2 separate regions of the Homo sapiens genome follow, and region 1 is linked to region 2. A link means that fine-mapping ties the variant in region 2 to the plasma level of a protein whose gene starts in the linked region. Region 2 holds a variant in brackets. A gene starts in the other region. All regions are shown on their forward strands. Region 1 holds the start of RETN (resistin). Region 2 has its middle 65 kb from the start of LINC02260.

Evidence for each region. A credible set is the group of variants that fine-mapping cannot tell apart. PIP is the posterior inclusion probability: the model's chance that the variant is causal. The UK Biobank Pharma Proteomics Project read protein levels with antibody pairs (Olink). The fine-mapping took linkage between variants from a reference panel, not from the people measured, so its PIPs are less certain.
Region 1: RETN starts here. The variant in region 2 is the best candidate, but not a certain one, in a credible set for the plasma level of the RETN protein (UK Biobank, PIP 0.89).

Annotation. Positions count from the first base shown.
Region 1 is chr19:7,667,538-7,670,435 of GRCh38, forward strand. RETN (resistin) reads left to right here and starts at 1,512. Exons shown (of 4, transcript NM_020415.4): 1 at 1,512-1,584; 2 at 1,780-1,907; 3 at 2,284-2,361; 4 at 2,682-2,898. The coding sequence starts at 1,790. The coding sequence ends at 2,812.
Region 2 is chr4:54,541,051-54,543,978 of GRCh38, forward strand. No RefSeq gene overlaps it. Among named protein-coding and RNA genes, the nearest start is that of LINC02260, 65 kb to the right of the region's middle. RefSeq lists a cis regulatory region at 1,437-2,048. The variant A/T (reference allele first, on the strand shown) is at 1,658.

The DNA.
Region 1 (2,898 bases), not on the chromosome of region 2:
ACTCTGAAACAAAGAAACAAACAAAAGCAATGGTTAAAATGGAACAAGATGGTGCATACCTGTAGCTTCAGCTACTGGGGAGTCCAAGGTGGGAGGATTACTTGAAGCCAGGAGTCTGACACTAGCTTGGGCAACATAGCAAGACCCCGTCTCAAAAAAAAAAAAAAAAAGGCCGGGCACGGTGGTTCACGCCTGTAATCCCAGCACTTTGGGAGGCCAAGGCGGGCAGATCACAAGGTCAGGGGATCGAGACCATCCTGGCTAACACGGTGAAACTCCATCTCTACTAAAAAAAAAAAAATACAAAAAATTAGCTGGGCGTGGTGGCAGGCGCCTGTAGTCCCAGCTACTTGGGAGGCTGAAGCAGGAGAATGGCGTGAACCCAGGAGGCGGAGCTTGTAGTGAGCCGAGATCGCGCCACTGCACTCCAGCCTGGGCGACAGAGCAAGATTCCGTCTCAAAAAAGAAAAAAGTAAGTTATAATGGTAAGTTGTATGTTATATGTATTTTACCACAAAAAGGCCCGTTGTACTGGAAACAAAGAACAAATAAAAATGTAATAACCATTCCAAGCTCATGGGTGGTCCAAGAAGAAACATGAGCTGGACCTTGGCCCATGAGCAATGGCTTTCCAACTTCTGTTGCAGGTGATGCCATTGATGGAATAAACCATGATTTTTCTTTCTTCTTTTTGAGATGGAGTCTTGCTATGGTGCCCAAGCTAGTCATCCAGGATGGAGTGCAGGGGCACGATCTCAGTGCACTGCAACCTCCACATCCCGGGTTCAAGTGATTCTCCCACCTCAGCCTCCCAAGTAGCTGGGATTACAGGCACACGCCACCACGCCCAGTTAATTTTTGTATGTCTAATGGAGACAGGGTTTCATCATGTTGGCCAGGTTGGTCTCAAGCTCCTGACCTCAAGTGATCCGCCCGCCTTGGCCTCCCAAAGTGCTGGGATTACAGGCGTGAGCCACCGGCCATAAACCATGATTTTATTTACCAGTTCTATTGCTCATGGGCATTTGGGTATGAATGTGGTATGTCATTCTCACCCAGAGACATAATTATTATTACTATTTTAGAGAAGTGGTCTTGCTCTGTTGCCCAGACTGGAGTGCAGTGCTGTGATCATAAGTCACTGTAGCTTCGAACTCCCGGGCTCAAGCAATTCTCTCACGTCAGCCTCCTTAGTAGCTGGGACTACAAGTGCTTGTCCGCACCATGCCTAGCAAGAGGCATTAATTTTGTCATGTTTGCATCAGCCACCCTTGCATGCAAAACTCTGCTTGTCTACCTGTTCCTCAGACCACAGCCCCTGGCATTATCCCTGGGGCACCACCTCCTGACCAGTCTCTGGACATGAAGACGGAGGCCCTGTTGGAAGTGGGAAGGCTCCCTTCCTCCTCCAGCCCTTACTGTCTGCTCAGGGGCTTCCTCTTGGCCCCGGATGTGGGACCGGAGGGTTGGGGGCCCAGGGACTTATTAGCCAAGCCAGGAAGCCCCACCCCAAGAGGCCTCAAAGAAAGAGCTGCGGTGCAGGAATTCGTGTGCCGGATTTGGTTAGCTGAGCCCACCGAGAGGGTAAGTGACAGCTGCTCCTGCGCTTGCCATGGCACCAGCGGGGAGGCTGGGGTCAAGGCTGAGCCTCCATCCCTGTCCCCCACATGGGGGGACAGGGGTCCAGGTCCAGGGGCAGATCCTACTCCCTCCATGGGCCGGATCTTCCCCACAGGGCAGGGCTGATCCAGCTGTGGGTCTCTTGGTTCCCTCTTTCAGCGCCTGCAGGATGAAAGCTCTCTGTCTCCTCCTCCTCCCTGTCCTGGGGCTGTTGGTGTCTAGCAAGACCCTGTGCTCCATGGAAGAAGCCATCAATGAGAGGATCCAGGAGGTCGCCGGCTCCCTAAGTGAGGACCCCCCACTTGGGCAAGCTCCCCAAGGGTCTCAGAGACCTCACTGATCCCTGGCACAGACCTGACTCCAACCCAGCCCCAGCGCTCACCAAATCTCATCCTCAAATCCAACCAGATCATAAATTCAACCCCAACTCCACTCCCAACCCCTCCGACTGTCCCCACCTTATCCACGGCTCCAAACCCAATCCCCGCTCTCACTCCAAACCTTCCCTTACTCCAAAACACCCAACTCAAGACAGGGTCCTGGAGGCCAGTGAGCTCCTATGCCCACAGGGACCTAGCTCCAAACCAACAGGGCTAGGGGAGGATGGGGGAGGGACCGTTTGGTCTCACAGCTCCCCCTGTCTCCTTTCCTCCTGCCCCCCAGTATTTAGGGCAATAAGCAGCATTGGCCTGGAGTGCCAGAGCGTCACCTCCAGGGGGGACCTGGCTACTTGCCCCCGAGGTGAGTGCAGGAGACTGTTGTCCAGGCGCCCATTTCTGTTCCAAGTCCCCTGGGAATGCCCCCTCCCCGCCACGTTCCCCGTGTCCAGCCTCTACTCCCCTAGGATCTTGGTCCTGACTCCCAGCCTTCTCCGCCCACCATCTGGACACTGGTGTCCACCCTCACTCCCTGCCTCCAGTGCCCATTCAGTGGTTGGAGCCTCCAGCCGTCCCCGTCCCCACCCCCGCCCCCCCAACCCCCCTCCGCGCTCCCCACCCCCCTCCCGCTCCCACCCTCAGCCTCCCAGCTCAGAGTCCACGCTCCTGTGTTCCGGGCTGCAGGCTTCGCCGTCACCGGCTGCACTTGTGGCTCCGCCTGTGGCTCGTGGGATGTGCGCGCCGAGACCACATGTCACTGCCAGTGCGCGGGCATGGACTGGACCGGAGCGCGCTGCTGTCGTGTGCAGCCCTGAGGTCGCGCGCAGCGCGTGCACAGCGCGGGCGGAGGCGGCTCCAGGTCCGGAGGGGTTGCGGGGGAGCTGGAAATAAACCTGGAGAT
Region 2 (2,928 bases):
TAAGACTGCACAATTTATACATGTCTAAAATTAGGGAACCTGGCTGATTCATACGATTCATACCAGGAATAAGAGCCTGGGAACTTACTTCCTTAAAGACCAGTGCCCAGTGGGGGATGCTTAGAAGTGTCACTGTACAACATTTGCTGTCCAGAATCCTGACTTTTCAGAAAGAGACATGGACAATATTAACAGGGAAGAGGCCTTTGCTCTTCAAGCACCTTGATGGGTTTGCAACGGCACCTTTGAGAGGAGGCTGTATTTGTCTGCTTTATTTAAAGGGGGAAGTTTGAAGTAGAGGTGGTGGGGGCACTGGAGTAGGAAAGGAGTAAGAATGGCAGGATCCTGCATGGACAAAAGGCTGGAGAAAAATCTCCATGGAGGATGAATTTGTAAGTTATATCTGCTATGAGCAGTGCTGTTAAAATATTTACTCCGTAACACTCCCCACCCCCCAGATCCACTCATTATCTCGAACTGCCTGGGGTAAAAGGAGGAGATCAAGGAAGAATCTGGATCCTTTAAAAATGTCATGGGTCAAAACCGTAGGAGCTAGAGGCAAAGAAAACCATGAGAATATAAATCCATGACTATTCACACAACTACTGGGGAAGTCTTTGGATATTTTTCAGGCCACGGAATTAAGGATTCAGGGGAATTTCAGGCAGCTCCCAAGGAGTAGGGAGGCCCCAGATGCTATCTACATTGGAGCAATAATATCCGTGAAATTGTTGGTCATATTTTCAACTCAGGGTCCTGGTCCTGTTCAAATGCTTACAGCAGCAAGGGAGATAAAGGAGTAAAGCAGGCTGGATGTGAGACAGCAGGGAGTGGTAGGCGCTGCAGCAAGCTGTAGGGTGCAAGTCCTATCGGAAGGAGACAATTGCCTCCCAGCTCCAGCGGAGTGTTGCCTTGCAAGAATGCAAGCCCAGTGTTGCCAGATAGTCCACATTTTAAGAGAAGCCAGAAATGCAAATGTTTCAGAAAAACCTCGTTTTTGAAAAATGTTAACTAATTCAGAAAATATTTTCAAACTTCAAGGGTCAAACAAAAGATGTCTCGTGATGTATGTGGTTTCTAATTTAGAAGACAGAACAAATACAGGGATAAGATTCATTTTCAAAACAAGTAAAGAAATGAATGGCATTTAAGTGAGATATGATAGGAAAAGCTCTGATTCATGCATCTTAAATCCAGGGCTTTCGGCTCTGCTTGACTACTATTTGTCTGTATGTTTACAATGAAATAATTTATAATGTCGTGGCCTTCATCTCTTTATCCATAAAATGAAGGCATTAAATCTGACACTTTTTTTAGACTTGGAGATGTGATGATTGAGGGGGCAGAAAGAAAGTGTAAGCAGTGGAAAAATGAGCCCTGGGTGTGTTTCAAAATGTGTTGAATTCATTGACATTTATTATGTGTCTGCAAGGTACATTGCCTTGATCATGGAATTCTTGCTTACTGTGAAAAAGTAAGCATAAACTCAAAAAGCACCTTAATTATTTTGCCTACCTGAGAACAATGCTTTCAAAGAAGTGGGAGAAGAGCCTCCCCCAACTGGAAGCTGTGTTACTGACACTATCAGCAGGTGAGTTACAGAGTCTGTCAGCAACGATAAGAGCACTGGCGTATTTCCTATTCAGACTGACGCTGC[A/T]CTGAGACAGGAACCTAACTGATGTTTGTTCAATAATACCAAGATATGTCACAGAATCTGTGGGGGTGTCCGGTATCTTTTGTCAGCTTAGACTCAAACCCTGGAGAAAATATGTTGCAGACTGTTGCAGATGTTCTGAGATTAAATGATGTTTTCCTGAAAATGCATGAGGCATGGTCTACCGGTTTGCCTATTGGCAAACCGCCTCTTGCTGCCATCAAGACCCCACCCCCTCCCCCAGGCCATTCTGAAAAAGCAGAGCTGCCTCTAGGCCTTTCAGCTTTACCCTGAACCTCAAGACACTCCCACATTCTTCAGGGATTTGGGGATGGGTGGGTGGGTCTTATGATCCCAAAAGGATGGGATAGGGGAGAAGTGGGGTGGGTGGGAGGATGAGAGGTAGATGCAAAAAGATGGGTGGGGAAGAGAGGACCTAAACACAGTGCTGAGATCGAGTAATTTTAGGAGGCAGTACTGTTTGTGGAACATTTCATTCTTTATAGCTACTGTCACATTCTAGTCATTAGACTGCATTTACTTGTGGGTTGTAGAAATTACTTCCCATGGGAAACTAAAGCAATTCCTTCTTCAAAGGATGCTTTGTTTTCTAAGAGAAGAAAGTAAAGCCTATGACAGTGCAGCCAACTATGTAACCTACATTCCCTGCTAAGCCACTCTTGGTTGAAGTTCACTGTTTAGCATGACCACATAAAGAAGTAACCAAGAAATGATGATGATGACGATGATAATGATAATAATAGCTAGCATGTACTGAGCATCTTCTATATGCCAAGCCCTGAACTGAACCTTTATTTATGTGTTTTAATCCCTATAGAAACCCTGGCTATTATCATTAGCCCCATTTTACAGATGAGAAAACTGAGGCTTAAAGAAGCTATATGTGCTCACGATAACACAGCTAGGACTTAAACCTGATCTGCTCTGCTCTGAAGTCCATTCTTACAGGCACTGACCTCTGAATGTACCACATTTGGCTGAGAAGTCCTTTGTCATTTCTGACATAGAATCTCTCCTAGCAAAAACTTCAGGAATAAGGAGTGAATGAAACAGGAGTGCACAAAACAGAGAGTGGTATATCTGAAACTGGAGAAGTCCATGTGAATTTCAGTTTTAATCAATTACATCCATTAGGTGACAGCTGCTTCCCTTCTGCCCTCCAGGTGCCTGCACCTAGAGCTTAAAACATCTGCAAATTAAAGTGAGACTGTGCTGCTGTCCGAGGAAATGAGAGCAGCAGCTTCTGCTCTCTG